Linked DNA regions of Homo sapiens: region 2 is reported to be linked to region 1. Evidence: microRNA targets listed by miRTarBase, many of them from high-throughput screens and not tested one by one. Region 1 holds a microRNA gene; the other region holds the end of a gene's coding sequence.

The links. Region 1 holds the annotated microRNA hsa-miR-876-3p (UGGUGGUUUACAAAGUAAUUCA, at 3,564-3,585, opposite strand). A microRNA usually pairs through its seed, bases 2 to 8, with sites in the 3' UTR of a target mRNA and lowers its output. Matches are read on the target gene's strand: a 7mer-m8 pairs with bases 2 to 8, a 7mer-A1 pairs with bases 2 to 7 and ends in A, and an 8mer does both.
Region 2: the mRNA of ZFP14 is a reported target of hsa-miR-876-3p. Seed matches in the 3' UTR shown: 7mer-m8 at 5,480-5,486 and 7mer-A1 at 4,315-4,321.

What each region holds. Positions count from the first base shown.
Region 1 is chr9:28,860,073-28,868,604 of GRCh38, forward strand. MIR876 (microRNA 876) reads right to left here and starts at 3,634; the gene lies at 3,554-3,634. The region is part of intron 2 of LINGO2 (leucine rich repeat and Ig domain containing 2); the gene reads right to left.
Region 2 is chr19:36,333,405-36,341,169 of GRCh38, forward strand. It overlaps ZFP14 (ZFP14 zinc finger protein), which reads right to left. Exons shown (of 5, transcript NM_020917.3): 5 at 1,049-7,765. The coding sequence ends at 6,820. Among named protein-coding and RNA genes, the nearest start is that of LINC00665, 5.6 kb to the left of the region's middle.

The sequences.
Region 1 (8,532 bases):
AATATTTTAAATTTCACATTCCCATAGAAATATGTGGAAAATAATTAAGAAAATCTTACAAAGAACACCAACTTATTGTTTGAAAATCAAAAATTTATTTCATTGGAAAAATACCATTTTTACTGTGAAGATTAATTTTATTTGTCAACGTGACTGCACCATAGTGCCCAGATATTTGGTCAGACATTATGCTAGATATTTTTGTGAAGGTGATTTTTGGAAGAGAATAACATCAAAATTGGTACCCTTTGAAATAAAACAGATTTCCCTCTATAATGTGGGTAGGCCTCACCTATAAGTTGAAATCCTTAATAGACAAAGACTGACCTTCCCCATGCTTGAAATAATTTTGCCAGAAGATTAGATTGCACTTGGACTTGAACTGCAAATCTGCCCTGAGCCTCCAGACAGCTGCCCCATCTCATCGGATTTTGGACTTGCCATGCTTCCACAATTATGTGAGCCAATTACTTATGATAAATCCCTCTCTCTATAGATAGAAGAAAGATAGATAGATGGATAGATAGATAGATAGTCTTTATTTCTCTCTCTATATATAAAGATGCATATATATAATCTGTCATGTATAGTCATATATATATTTCATATATATATATATATATGCATAATCCACTTCTAAAGAATGAAACATAACAGGACAAAATGCAGTCAAAATGAATACAATAGATATAGTCAATGATGATGCAAAAGCAATTTCCGAAGTCTGTATCACTGTCACTTAGTTGTACAAATGTGTCACTTAAGAAACTAAAGGTCAGAAGTTTTCAGAGTTCTGACAGTCTTGTGGTCATAGCATTGAAGTTAAATAAGACTTAAGCTCTAGCCTTATAAATAAAAAAAGGTAAAAAATAATATATATAATATATTATATATCATTAATATATAAATCTATAATATATTATATTTATTAATATATAATATAATATATTATATAATACATATTATTAATATATAAATGTATAATATGTATTATTAATATATAAATATATAATATAAATTATATAAATATATAAAATATATTTATATAATATAAATTATATAAATTTTTATATAATTTATATTATATAAATATATAAAATATATTTATATTAATATATTTTATATATTATATATTTTTTATATAATATTATATAAATATATAATATATATTTTTTATACAATATTATATAAAATATATAATATTTATATATTATATATTTTATATATTATATATTTTATATAATATACTATATATAATATATATTATTAATATATATACATATTTAATATATATATACACACAAAAATCTTGTTGGTTCTGTTCTCTAGAAAATTCTCACAGATAACATTCATTTAAACATATCTATTCTCATATAGTTCTCACAGAAATTAGGGAAGCTTGATATTACCTTGTCCATAACAGGAGACCTCAGGTTCACTTTGAACACATGTTCTACTCATAACTGCACTCAAGCATGAGTATCTAGTGAGATTGTGTTGCTACAAAAATAAAATAAAATAAAATAAAACAAAATAAAATAAATTAGCTGGGCATGGTGGCAGGCACTGTAGTCCCAGCTCCTCAGGAGACTGAAGTGGGATGATTGCTTGAACCCAGGAAATCAAGGCTGAAGTGAGCTATGATTGCACCACTGCACCCCAGCCAGGGCAACATATGTTTTTTGTCTCTTACCAAAAAACACAAAACCTACACTAAAAATTAATTCATTGTTTGTAAACCTGTATTTATCTTAAAAATAAAAAAAGCGGTAGTGAAATAAATATAAAGAAGTTGGGATTAAAATTAGGATACAAGGATATAGGTACATGATTATGAGATATGCTTATTAGTCCATTAGCACATCCCATTATATCTCCCGTAAACTAAAAATTATCTTAAGAAAAAATATTGTGACTTCCTTCTAAATTCATATATCAGCAGTTCTACATATTATCATTAAAAACATAAGCTTCGGCTCAAAGGAAATTTTACAGGTGCCCCCTTTCATAAAACAGAAAAATCAAAGAGCTCTAGGACAAATTAATTTCAGAAACCTGTCTTCTCAGACTCTTTTCCCACCTGTCCTCACACATCAGCAAAGTAGCACCCAACAAAAGCACAGGAAATCCCAGAGCTCTGTGGATTTTGCTTATGAACATACAGTCCTATGAAAAATAAGGTTACATATGTATCAGACAAGGAATGGTAATAATAAATACTGAAGAATTAAAGGCTAGGAAATAAGAATAACATGTTTGTATCATAGTTCAAATTAAATTAGAGTAGCAAGATATTTCTTAGGTAAAGCATTTCCAATCATATTTATACACATATATTTTAAGGTTAAAAGTATACATATTGATTCATTCTTTTGGTCATTTATATGTTGAAAAATAATATACTGATTTTCTTTTATCTAACAGAAGGGCTTAAAAATTAGTATGCTAATTTATTTAAAGTCACCCAACCTTATAGAGCATATGCATAATCCACTTCTAAGGAATGAAACATAACAGGACAAAATAAAGTCATAATGAATACAATAGATATATTCAATGATGATGCAAAAGTAATTTCAGAAGCCTGTACCACTGTCACTTAGGTGTCCAGATGTGTCACTTAAGAAATTAAAGGTCAGAAGTTTTCATAGTTCTGACAGTCTTATAGTCATACCATTGAACTTAAATAAGACCTACGCTCTAGCCTTGGAAATAAATAAAAAACGGTAAAACCAAAATGACTATTTGAAAGCTTAATCAGTTATTAAAATAGTTAATCATCAATTGTTTGATTTATGGTCAGGGATAATCCATTCTTGGTAATCCTGATGACAGAAATGACCACAAAGTTCCATTTATTTTAATAAGCAATTACTAGTCAACAATTAGGCTTTTGTGACCTTGTAAAGGTTACACAATCTTTTCTGTCATAGAATAGGACTATAGATACTGTTTCCAGAAGAGTAAATGAAAATGAATGCCCAGTGAATACCTAATTTTAATATATGCCATCAAAATGTACAATTTGGTATGTTAAGGTGATTTTTTTTGCCCACACCAATGTTTTTCTTGTTAAAATAAAATGTTGCTTTTTACAAAAGTACTGCATAACAATGATGTCTTCAAGCCCCTGATCATTTACCAAACTATTTAATTAATATATTAATTGGGCATAATAATCCAAATAAAATATGATATTTAAACTTCAAAATGGTATGCTTAGGATTTAAGGGGCTGATTCAATTAATGTTTCTGATGTATCATGTTTTTTTAACCAAGAAATATTACAAATTACTTTTCAAAAAAAGAACAGTAGAGACAGAGACAGCAACTATGTAAAACATGTATATTTAGGTAAAGTAACCATAATTTCTGGTGTGTTTGACACAGGTTTGATCACTGTTAACACTAAGCACCAAATAGAAGGATTCTAGAGTATATTTACCAGGGATCTCTTGACTTTGTGTGTCTTGTAATACAAAGTGGCTTGTTCTCAATGGCTCAGTAAAGGAATCTTAGGCTTCATGGTGTAGATCAACTGCAGAAGCACCTGTGAAGCACTATGAATTACTTTGTAAACCACCACCACATTAGCTTAGATATGGTGATTCACAAAGAAATCCACAGCACTTCACAGTTTGTGTAAAGCCTGGTACCTATGAACCAACAAAAACAGTACCCTTTGGCCACCAAAAGTTGAGGAAGTATTTCCATCTAGTTCACAATCAATTGAAGAATATGCTCAGTTTTGCACCACCCTCTTTTAGCTGAAACACACAAGAAACACTGAACATTTATTTTAAGTAAATAAAACTTAAAAATAAATGCATGCTTTCTATATTATATACCAGTAAATTTCATTTAAAAGAATTCCTAATACAATAACTAGCATGACATTATGCAGGATGAAAAAACAGGGTTCTGCTCATCAAAATAAAAGGGCATGGTTATTAATATAGATGTCAGGAGTAGGGAGTAGAATAAATAATAAAACTATATGTAATTCTCACATCCATATCACAGTATATAAGTGTTGCTGGGATAATTTGTTCTAAAGATATCCTCAGTTACTTAGCTTCCCACTTTATACTCATATAATCTCATATCCTATGACACAAGCTTACCAATGTTACAAATCTGCCCTTGTACCCCTGAACTTAAAATAAAAGTTCAAAGGCAATCATTAAATGAGTTTAACCTGAGTGTTTTTTCCTCTGATATTTGTCCAAGTAAGTATTTTTTCATATGACTGCTGAAGTCCAAGAATGTTTATAAAACTAAATTCTATATTATACATATTAGGTTCAACTCTGAAAGAAAACCACACCAATAAAAAATGAAAAACAAACAATAAAGTTACTCTCCTTTGCAAAATAACCAGAATCCCACCTTTTAACTTTTATCTAAAGAGCAAAAAGAAAGGTTTCATTTATAATTAATGAAAAGAATCTATAAATCTTCCCAGCCTAGTAAGCATAATATCAATCAAGTAATTCATGCTTTTGAAAATTTCAACATTTTTCAAAGTAACCATCAAATGTCAACATTAATTAAAAGTTTGCTTTATAGAAGCTCATGAACATAAGAGTCCTAGGCAGTTCACCACTGTCAGTGTAGGTCACTGCTCAGGAATACCCTACTCACCTCCACCAACCACACATATAACAACCAAGCCAAACTTGCTAAGTATCTGAATAATTAAAAATATTTAAATAAAAAATTTGTAGAAAATATGTATGTATGAAAAAAAAATATTTGTTTTGCGCTTATCATGTGCCAGGCATAGTCTTGGTTAGATGCTGGGGATATAAAAACTCCAGGTTTCAAGAAATACAAAGGAGAAAACAAGAATTTGAAAAAAGCAGTAATAGGTGTTATGAAAAGTTTCCATATAGGGCTAATGGAGACATGGAGAGGCCACTTAATTCAGTGCTAAGAGCGTTGATTACAGATGTCTTCTCTAAGGGAATACCATATATAAGAGAACTGAAAGAGTAGCAGGAATTAGCAATGAGAAGGGTGGGGTAAGTGTTCTAAGCAGAAGAGAACACATATACCACGGCCTATCCAAAGAAATAACGTGATTTTTATTTTATTTTTTGGTATACTATAGCTGAAAAGGAAAACTGCTGCTACAGTTAGAGTAGGTGAACACAAGTGAGCATCACCAGATCAGAGGCAGCAGGGACAGAAAAATTTGAAGTAAGAGAACTCCAGAATAATGAGGCAACCTGTCTGAAATATGGGCAGAGTAAAGGAGCAGTTATACAAAGGTCCTCCAGCTCTTCATCAAGTGTCACACTCAATCCCAAACTGGCCCAGGCAAAACCTCTTGAAGAATCAGGCCAGTTTCCCCAGTGAAATTCAGGCATACTAGTTGGGTGGAATACATTTAGAGTTTGACATGGGTTTAAAAACAAATCACCCTGGCCGGGTGTGGTGGTTCACGTCTGTAATCCCAGCACTTTGAGAGGCCGAGGCGGGAGGATCATGAGGTCAGGAGATCGAGACCATCCTGGCTAACATGGAGAAACACCGTCTCTACTAGAAAAATACAAGAAATTGGCCGGGCATAGTGGCTTGCGCCTGTAGTCCCAGCTACTCGGGAGGATGAGACAGGAGAATGTCTTTAACCCGGGAGGCAGAGGTTGCAGTGAGCCAAGATCGTGCCACTGCGCTCCAGCCTGGGTGACAGGGAGAGGCTCTGTCTCAAAAAACAAAACAAAACAAAGAAACAAAAAACAATCATCTCAACTTAAAGAGATCTTAAGTGGCTCTTTGAATAACCATTCCAATCCAAATGTAAAATTAAGTTGATCCAATAATAATAGTGAAATAATCCAGGGTGTGTTTTTACAATATTTTATACCTCTTGTTGCTATTCTTTCACTAAACAAGACAAATATGCTCTCCATATGTAGCACTCTATGTTAGTCGGGTACTTGGCTTTGCTTGGTTTGTGAATCTGAATGCAAGAAAACTTCATGCAAGTCCCTCTTTAGACAGCATTCAGCTAATTTAGAAAATTTTCCCACATTTTCTGTCAAATATGCTCTCTATTTTATATAAGTAGATAAATGATATGCACTGAGAATGAAATGTTCTGGTTGAACTAATTTTCCGGTGCACTGATTATTAGAAAACACCATTTTTTCAAACTCTTGCACTATTTAACTTCAAAAATAGGCAGTTATTTTATAATGAATTACCATATTGAATGCTTTATTGTATTTTTTTAAGGTTATCCAGAACCCCTGTGTCATTTTCTACTTGTGGTCAACATCTCTGTTAATAACCGTGCATCAGTTATTCCATCTATGCTTGTGATTTGAAAAATAAGGTCCCTAACCCCAAAGGAATTCAGAGTACCACGGGGCATACAAAGTGATTCTGAATCTGCAATTAGGAACTATAGCATAAACCCTATAATCAATGCTATGAAAGGAATATTTTCCAAGTTCTAAGGCTGCAGAGAGGAGGAAGGCCAACACCCAGGGCACCCAGGGCAGAGAAGAAGGGTGGTGTGAATTAGACTTAAGTGCTACACAATATGGTACATTGCAGGCAGTTACAGGATATGAAGTAGATTGATATTTTTGCTTTTGCCAAAAAATTCTGAGTGCTGTTAGTGTGAAAATCACTAATGTGAGCATGAATTCATATAATTAACTTTATTCTCTTACTCTTCTATCACCGGGGGGTAAATTCCAGCTAATGGAGAATTCTTTTTAATTGGGCTCCAACTAGGCATCAGGTTTATTAGAGGACAGACGTCGTTGGTGGGGTCTTAAAGTGAGTAACTTAGTTCTGATTCAAAAGTATAAACAGAAATTTATTCTGTACTATAGTTTATTTTCTAGATTCATCCTTATTTCTTAGAATCTTGTATCTTACATTTTTCAACCCACACAAGCAAGAAAACTGAAATAAAACAAATAAGGTAGAGATAATATCAAAATACAGGCCATAATATCAGCTCTATTTAAAATAACTACTGCTGGTGACAGGAAGTAAAACAGCTGCAGAACTGACAGAGGAATCTGCAGTTAAGGGCTAAATCACACCACTAATATGACAAATGCTGCTGGTAAACTGAGTGGGAAGGCAAGTTCAGAAGGAAGCCTGCATCCTTTCCTGGTGATGAAAGCTAAAAAGAATGAAAATAGTAGAGCAAGTAAAATAATACAAAATAAAAATAGAACAGGAAATGAAAAATGCATATACAGTAAATACAATCCTCCTACTGGTTATTTTTTTCTCCCTTTTCTCATAAAATCTCTCTTTTGCCCTGAAATATTGAAAATAAACAATGCAAGTCAGGGTATAAAAGCAAGTGATTGCTAACAATAATAAGCAAGTGCTAGCCATAGCTGAGCTAAATATGTGGCAGGCTCTATGTCTTTCAAGTAAAGAAAAAAAAAAAAAGAAGACAAACTCTTACCCCTACTGCACCAATGTAAACATTTGCCATAAATTACAGAGAATCACAAAGTTATTGGAATTTTAACTATTTTTTAAAAAGAAAAACTTTCATTATCAAGCACCCATAAAGCATGTGTATTACTTCATTTATTTCTGATTTCTGACAACAGACAACACATAATCCCTGCCTTCAACACGTGGCAGTTGAGGCACACAAAAAAGTGTAATCTGTCCAAGGTTAAACAAATGTTTAAATAACAGAGCTAGATTTGTCTAAAAGCTCATGTTTTGTCTTTGCCCCATAACGTCCCAGTATGCAACATTACCTATAGTGTTTGTGAAATATATAGAGAAAAGAAAATTAGGTAAAAACATAAAGTTTGAATTATAAATTTTACACAGAATCAAATATACATTTGCCCTACAATGAAACAATTCTTTTACCCAAAAATAATAAAACATATTAATAATACTTAAACATTTTGTAAAAGCATCCAGTTTACTTAAGACAAAGTTTTCAGGATTTTATGTAAAATATCCATTTATACAAAAATAGATAATATCTCAATTACAAATCTTTCCTTTCTTACTCATTATAGGTGATCCCTAGAGGCTTGGAAGAATGTTGTTAACCTAGTGTGTGTCGTTAACTTTGCTTACACTTAATAAAGTCTCCTGCCTTCAGAAGTATACTATGACTTATTTGCCTTCAGCTGAATATGCCTTTCTGTGAATAAGTCCTCATTGATGACATTTGATTTTATACTCCAGGAAGTATTTTTCAGTCATTGAAGGGTTTAGTTCACTGTCAAAGATCATTTGTCTAAGCAGTAATATCTAGAGATCCAGTTTATAAAGTGGACCTCTACATTTACTCAGAGACTACATAGAATAGTGAGTGAGTGAGTGAGCATGTGTGTGTGTCTGCATGCATGTGGTTATGTGTGTATGTTTTCTCTTTTGTTCTCCCTGCTTCAAGATTGATGCCTTTCGAAAGTGGCATCATGGGTAATTTTCTGTCATCTGAGAGATAACTCATCCTACTTCAAATCTGTCCACATAATAGTCCAGTGTTTTGTAGGTAAATTTAATTGTTTAGTTATTTGAAGA
Region 2 (7,765 bases), not on the chromosome of region 1:
TAATCCCAGCACTTTGGGAGGTCGAGGCAGGCAGATAACTTGAGGTCAGGTTATAAATGTTTAATACCTAAAATGATCAATACCTAAAAAAAAAATTTTTTTTTTGAGAGGGAGTCTCATTCTGTCACCCAGGCTGGAGTGCAGTGGCGCGATCTCGGCTCACTGCAACCTCTGCCTCCTGGGTTCAAGAGATTCTCCTGCCTCAGCCTCCCGAGTAGCTGGGATTACAGGTGAGCACCACCACGCCCAGCTAATTTTTGTATTTTTAGTAGAGATGGGGTTTCACCATGTTGGCCAGGCTGGTCTTGAACTCCTGACCTCAGGTGATCCACCTGCCTTGGCCTCTCAAAGTGCTGGGATTACAGGCGTGAGCCACCGCACCCGACCGATACTAAACTATTTTAAGAATCCTGAAAAATCAATAAATGAGAATGCAAAAAAAAATACAGCAAAGGCATCATTAAAAAGCACAGTAAACACGATTGGCCAATAAACGCATATGAACAGATGCTTGACTCACTTGTAATCAAGGTAATAATTTTTTTTTTTTTTGAAACCGGGTCTCACTCCAACACTCAGGCTGGAGTGCAGTGGCATGATCACAGCTTACTGCAGCCTTGACTTCCCAGACTCAAGTGATCCGTCCACCTCCGCCTCCCAAGTAGCTGAGACCACAGGCACATGCCACCGCACCCAACCAATTTTTGTATTTTCTGTAGAAATGGAGTTTTGCCATGTTGCCCAGCCTGGTCTCGTACTTCTGGGCTCAAGCAATCCTCCTGCCTTGGCCTTCCAAAGTGCTGGGATTATAGGTGTGAGCCACCGTGCCTGGCCCAGTGTAATAAATATTGAAACTTATAGCAGAGGTAGGGAAATATGAACACTGATATTCAATGATCAAAGGGATTCAAAACTGGAACAATGGTGGAGCCACAATTTGGCAATAAGCAGTGAAGCTGAAAGTGTATACAGCCTATAACGAACAATTTCATTTCTAGGTAATACCTTAGATTCTTGACTCTTTAAGGAAATTAAAAAATACACAAAATGATATTCAATATAGCATCTTTATTACCACAGAAACTCATTTATGTCCTTAATCATTGTTTAATATAATATATAAGCATGTTTAACACAAACATATCAAGGATCGGGCTGGAATCTTTTCCATTCTATAGAAAAGCACTAACCATCCATTAAAGCAGGTAGCTACTTTCAGAGCATGATATGAGCTGCAAAAAATTGCCCTGACTTATGCCGCCCCCAACACAACCACTCACCATATCTAAAATTACACCCTTGAAGACATTCATTGTGGTTATGGTAGCATCTAACAAAGCTGTTCCTATTCCAGATATTCGGACTGAGAATTCCACAATAAATTTGAGATACACTCAGTTAAATAAAAATGTCTTTACTAAATCTTTGGCAAACTGATCATGTATACTTTGAATTCCTCAAAAGTAGATTTTTATTTTATTTTATTTGAGACTGAGTTTCACTCTTGTTGCCCAGGTTGGAGTGCAATGGCAAAATCTCAGCTCACTGCAATCTCCATTTCCTGGGTTCAAGCAATTCTCCTGCCTCAGCCTCCCAAGTAGCTGGGATTACAGGTGCAAGCCACCACGCCCAGCTAATTTTGTATTTTTAGTAGAGACAGGGTTTCACCATGTTGGCCAGGCTGGTCTCAAACTCCTGACCTCAAGTGATCTGCTCGCCTTGGCCTCCCAAAATGTTGGGATTACAGGCGTGAGCCACCGTGCCTGGCCAAAAGTAGATGTTTTATGTTTTGCTTCATTTGCCTATTTTCCCAAGAAATCTTTTTTTCAAATACCATCGAGAATTAATATTCCTTGAAGCAAACTTCTGGAGAATGTTGAATTTAGGGGTCAAACACAGGCTTTCTGGAGGTATTTGGTGCTTGGGAAAAGAAACACTGACCTATTAGCAAAGATAGATTTTGTAATAAATTCTAAATAAACTTTATTTAGAATTGTGAAAAATAGAATCTTCATAATGAAGGTGGTCTAGAATTTGCTTTCAGAAACTATCTTCATCTAATTTTTATTAGGATTATTTTACCTTGCAGAATTAATTGGTAAAATCTTTAGGATTATCTATTCCTTAAAGTTTTTATAAGTATCAGATTTTTTAAACAGGGAGTTCACACACACACACACACACACACATTTTTTGTTAATCTATTTGGGTTATACGGTGAGTTAATTGTAAAACATATTCCTTTTGGGGGAAAAATGCAATCCTACATTTTTACTTGTACTGGAATGAATATACACGTTTGTGCATGTGTGCATGTATAGTTTTACCATATTATGTTTATTATTTTTGAGACAGGTTCTCACTCTGTCACCCAGGCTGGAGTGCAGTGGCGTGATCTTGGTTCACCGCAACCTCTGCCTCCTGGGTTCAAGCAATTCTCCTGCCTCAGGCTCCCCAGTAGCTTAGATTACAGGTGCCCGCCACCATGACAGGCTAATTTTTGTATTTTTAGTAGAGATGGGGTTTTGCTATGTTGGTCAGGCTGGTCTCGAACTCCTGACTTCAAGTGATCCACCCACCTCGGCCTCCCAAAGTGCTGGGGTTACAGGTGTGAGCCACTGTGCCCGGCCTAGTTTTGCCTTATAATTTTAAAAATCTGCTTGATATAATCTAGAGTTGTGTCTCTTTTATCATCATTAATACTCTAAATGTATTATCTTTCATTTTCTCTTCCTTGATTATAACTGCCAAAATCTAATCACTATTAACATTGAATCAAGTCTAATATTCTCCATTCTCTTAATTTCTACTTTCTACTGTTACTTGGCTGTTCCTTTTTTTTTTTTTTTTTTTTTGACAGACTCTTGCTCTGTTACCCAGGCTGGAGTGCAGTGGCGCGATCTCAACTCACCACAAACTCCGCCTCCTGGATTCAAGTGATTCTCCTGCCTTAGCCTCCCAAGTAGCTGGGATTACAGGCATGCACCACCATGCCTGGCTAATTTTGTATCTTTAATAGAGATGGGGTTTCTCAGTGTTGGTCAGGCTGGTCTCAAAATCCCGACCTCAGGTGATCCACCTGCCATGGCCTCCCAAAGTGCTGGGATTACAGGCATGAGCCACCGCACCTGGCCACTTGGCTGTTCTTTACTTGGGTTGGTTTTATTTTGTTGTTTCCTTTTTCTTGACGGAAATACTTATTCATTCCCTCAACACATTCATCTGTGTGACAGGCCTGGTGTTGCTGCTGTGGGTAAGTGAAGAAGATGAAGACTGTATCCACAAATAAGATTTCCTTACCACATTACAGGGCATTAATTTGTCACTGAACAGAACTTTGATTATATCTGACAAGGTTAGATGTGCAGGCATCTCACTGTCATTCATTTCTACATAGTCTATAATTTTGGTTTTGATTTTAAACATTTTATTATTGAAATTTCAAACACATACAAAAGTAGAAATATTAGAACAATAAGTCTCCATGAACAAAACACTCCACTTAAATTATCAACATGTTGCCAATTTAGTTTCCAGCTCTCTTTGCCAATTATTTCTTTTGCTAGAATATTTTAATCCAAATGTGTCTATCTTCATTTCATAGTATGTATCTCATATCATACGATCTTTTATTTTTTATAATCACACTGACATAATCCCTAACCAAATTAATATATGTAAATATCATTTAATATTTAGTCCATGTCCACACTTCCCTCACTGTCTCCAAAATGGCTTTTTATGTTTTGTTCAAACCAGGTCCAAGTAATGCCAACATACTGAATTTAGTTGATATGTCTCTTTAAGTCTCTTTTAATCTGTTAATGGTTGCCCTTCCCCTTGTATTTTCATGCTACCTGTTAGTTGAAGAAATCAGGTAATTTGCTCTGTAGAATTTCACACATTCTGGATCTGTTTGGCTTCTTCCTTGTGGTGCCCTTTATAGCCAGCCCTCCATATGTGCAGATTCAACCAATCTCAAATAGAAAATACTCAAAAAAAAACAATAAAAATAAAATACAATAAAAATAATGCAAATTGAAAAATACAGTATAACAACTATTTACATAGTATTTACATTGTGATAGGTATAAGTGATCTAAAGATAATTTAAAGTATACAGGAAGATGTGAGTAGGTAATATGCAAATACATACTATGCCATTTTATACAAGGGACTTGAGCATCCTCAGATTTTACCATCAGTGGAGGATCCTGGAACCAATTCCCCATGGATACCAAGGGATGACCATATACTGTTCATCTAGTCCCTGTCTGCTTTCAGTTCATTATTCCAGCAATAAGGCTTTGTAGATGGTGGTGTGGACTTCCTATTGCATTACGTCAGGAAGTGTGTTGTCTGATAGACCCATTTTTATTAAGGTTAAAACAGATCAAAGGGTTCAGAGGTGGCCAGTTTGATAGATCCACCATAAAAATCTCGCTATAAAATATTTCACCTATTAGTTGTAGTACCCATTGAAGATCATGTTTTCTGGACCCATTATTCCATTAAGGTCTAGAAAATGGTGATTTTTCTAATCCTCTAATTCCTTCTAGATTTATTAGACTTCTTCAAAAAAGAAAAACCCATTCAAAAAACAAATTTTTTTTTTGAGACAGGGTCTCACTCTGTCACCCAGGCTGGAGTGCAGTGGCACGATCTCAGCTCACTGCAAACTCTGCCTCTTGGGTTCAAGTGATCCTCCCACCTCAGCCTGGGACTACAGGTGTGTGCCACCATGCCTGGCTAAATTTTGTATTTTTAGTACAGACAGGGTTTCACCATGTTAACCAGGTTGGTCTCAAACTCCTGGCCTCAAGTGATCCACCCACCTTGTCCTCCCAAAGTGCTGGGATTACAGGTGTGACCCCTGTGCCAGGCCAAATTCATTTGAATTTGATGAACTTCTGGTGACCCTGAAATTTGGTTCACATGGGAAAAGGAAACTAAATGACAATTTTTCCTCTGATTTATTGATTTCAAGAATAATGAGTTGGGCTGGGTGTGGTGGCTCATACCTGTAACCCCAGCACCTTTGGAGGCCAAGGAGGGAGGATCACTTGAGCCCAGAAGTTCAAGACCAGCCTGGGCAACATAGTGAGACCCTTTCTCTAAAAAAAAAAAAAAAATTTAGGTGGAAGAATCACTTGAGCCCAGGAGGAACAGGGTACAGTGAACTGTGCTTGTACCACTGCACTCCAGCCTGGGGGACAAAGTGACACCCTGTCTCAAAAAAATTATACATTGGTGCTCTAGCATCTTTCATAGGTTACCAAATTATGCAGCCACAATCAAGTAAACTATCAAATTATTGGTGGGATCACATCAAAAACTCAACTTGAAACAACTCCTACTGGTTGAAGATATGGCATTTTGAGCATCCAAAAGTATACTGACTTATAGAATGATGTTTTGTTTCTTTCCCACAGGAGTTTTATACACACACATAAATATACACAACAATATTAAATTCCTAGGTGGTTAATTTCTTTTAAGCCACATTTTTGATAGTTTCTAATTAATTTTAAACTGTGGTCAGACAACAGGGATTGTAAGCCTTTTGCTTTCTGGAATTATGGGAAAATCATTTCCTATTTCCCTCTAATTCTTCAACAGCTGTATTACTAGTGACCTCACATTCATGAAATTCATTTTTGGCATGAAATTTCTAATGCAGCTCAAGTGCTGAAGAACTTCCTACATTCACTACAATCTAAATTTTACCTAGAATAAATTATGTTTAATAATTTCTGAGAGGTGACAGGAGGCATTTCTACATTTATTATGTCTACAGATCTTCCTTTTACGTGAATTCACTAATACTAATGACAATAATAACAATTACAGATAATATTTACAGAATACATGCTATATGACTGTGATTCCTCCAAGTATTAACTACTTACTCCTTGCAACAATCCTATTCCACAGTGTGGCAGGCTGACTCTAAACAGGCCCCCCAGTGGTCCTGTCTCCAGGACTTATTCACACTCTTGTATCATCCCGTTCTCTTGAGTGTGGACTATCCTAGTAACTTACTTCTACCAGTAGAAGGTGAGGGAATGTTACTTCCATGATTAGATTACACAAGATGGTAACTTCCATCTTGCTAGCAGACTGTCCTCCCTTTTGGCTTGCATGCCTTGATGAAGCAAGCAGCCATGTTGATGAGGCTATTGTGGCCAGGAGCTGCAGTCAGCGTTCAGCCAACAGCCAGCTAGAAACTGAGAATCTCAATGCAACAGGCCTCACGGAAATACATTGGGTAACAACTATGTTAGTCTGGATGTGGATCCTTCCCCAGTTGAGCCTTCAGATGAGACCTCAGCCCTGGCTGAAATCTGTAGCCTTGCAAGAGACCCTGAAGCAGAGGACCCAACTAAGTCATGCCTATACTCCTGATCCAAATTATAAGATATAATTATATGTTATTTTATGCTACTAAGTCTGTGGTAATTTATTACGCAGCAATAAATAACTAATACATATAAGTACTATTATTACCATTTTACAAGTCAGCAAAATGAGGCACAGAAGCTTAGTATCTTGTCCAATAAATCAAACTGGTAATCAAGTGGAGAAAGGGAGATAATGACAGATAAGGCTAAAGATTTTCCTACATTCATTACATTATTCTCTCATAGGAATTTGCTGAAGATAAACCATGTTTAAATGGTGTTGGAAGGCTTTTAAATCAACATATTCTTTCTCTAATATAAAATTTATTATGCTTGGAATTGAGCATGAAACACATTTTCTCAAAAATGAATTTTCTGATGTTCTGTAACATCATATACATTTGAAGGCTTTCTTCTATTAAATTCCATTATGAATCTTCTGATGCTGAGTAAGGTGTGAATGCTGTCTAAAGGCCTTCTTACACTCCTTACACTTGTAGGGCTTCTCACCAGTATGAATTCTCTGGTGTTGAGTAAGAAATGAATAAAGTCTAAAAGCCTTACCACATTCCTTACATTCATAAGGTTTCTCACCAGTGTGAATACTCTGATGTTGGGTAAGTTGTGAGAGCAGTCTAAAAGGTTTTCTACATTCCTTACATTCATAAGGTTTCTCACCAGTGTGAATACTTTGATGCTGAGTAAGTTGTGAGAGCAGTCTAAAGGCCTTTCCACACTCTTCACATTCATAGGGTCTCTCACCAATATGAATGCTCTGGTGTGAAATAAGCTGTGAGTAACTACTAAAGGTCTTCCAACATTCCATACATTCATAGGGTTTCTCACGAGTATGTATTCTCTGATGGCGAACTAGTTGTTGTCTTAATCTAAAAGTCTTCCCACATTCCTTACATTCGTAGGGTTTCTCACCAGTATGAATACTCTGATGAACAGTAAGTTGTTGGCATATTCTAAAAGCCTTTCCACACTCCTTACATTCATAGGGTTTCTCACCAAAATGAATTTTCTGATGTACTCTAAGGTCTGGACCACATACGAAGGCTTTCCCACATTCCTTACATTCATAGAGCTTTTCAGCAGTATGAAGTCTCTGATGGCGTGTAAGGTGTGTACACTGTCTAAAGGTCTTTCCACAGTCCTTACATTCATAGGGTTTCTCACCAGTGTGAATTCTCTGATGTCGAGCCAGTTGCTGATGTACTCTAAAGGCCTTTCCACATTCCTTACATTCATAGGGTTTTTCACCCGTATGAAGTCTCTGATGTTGAGTAAGTTCTTGGAGCACTGTAAAGGCCTTCCCACACTCCTTACATTCATAGGGTTTCTCACCGGTGTGAAGTTTG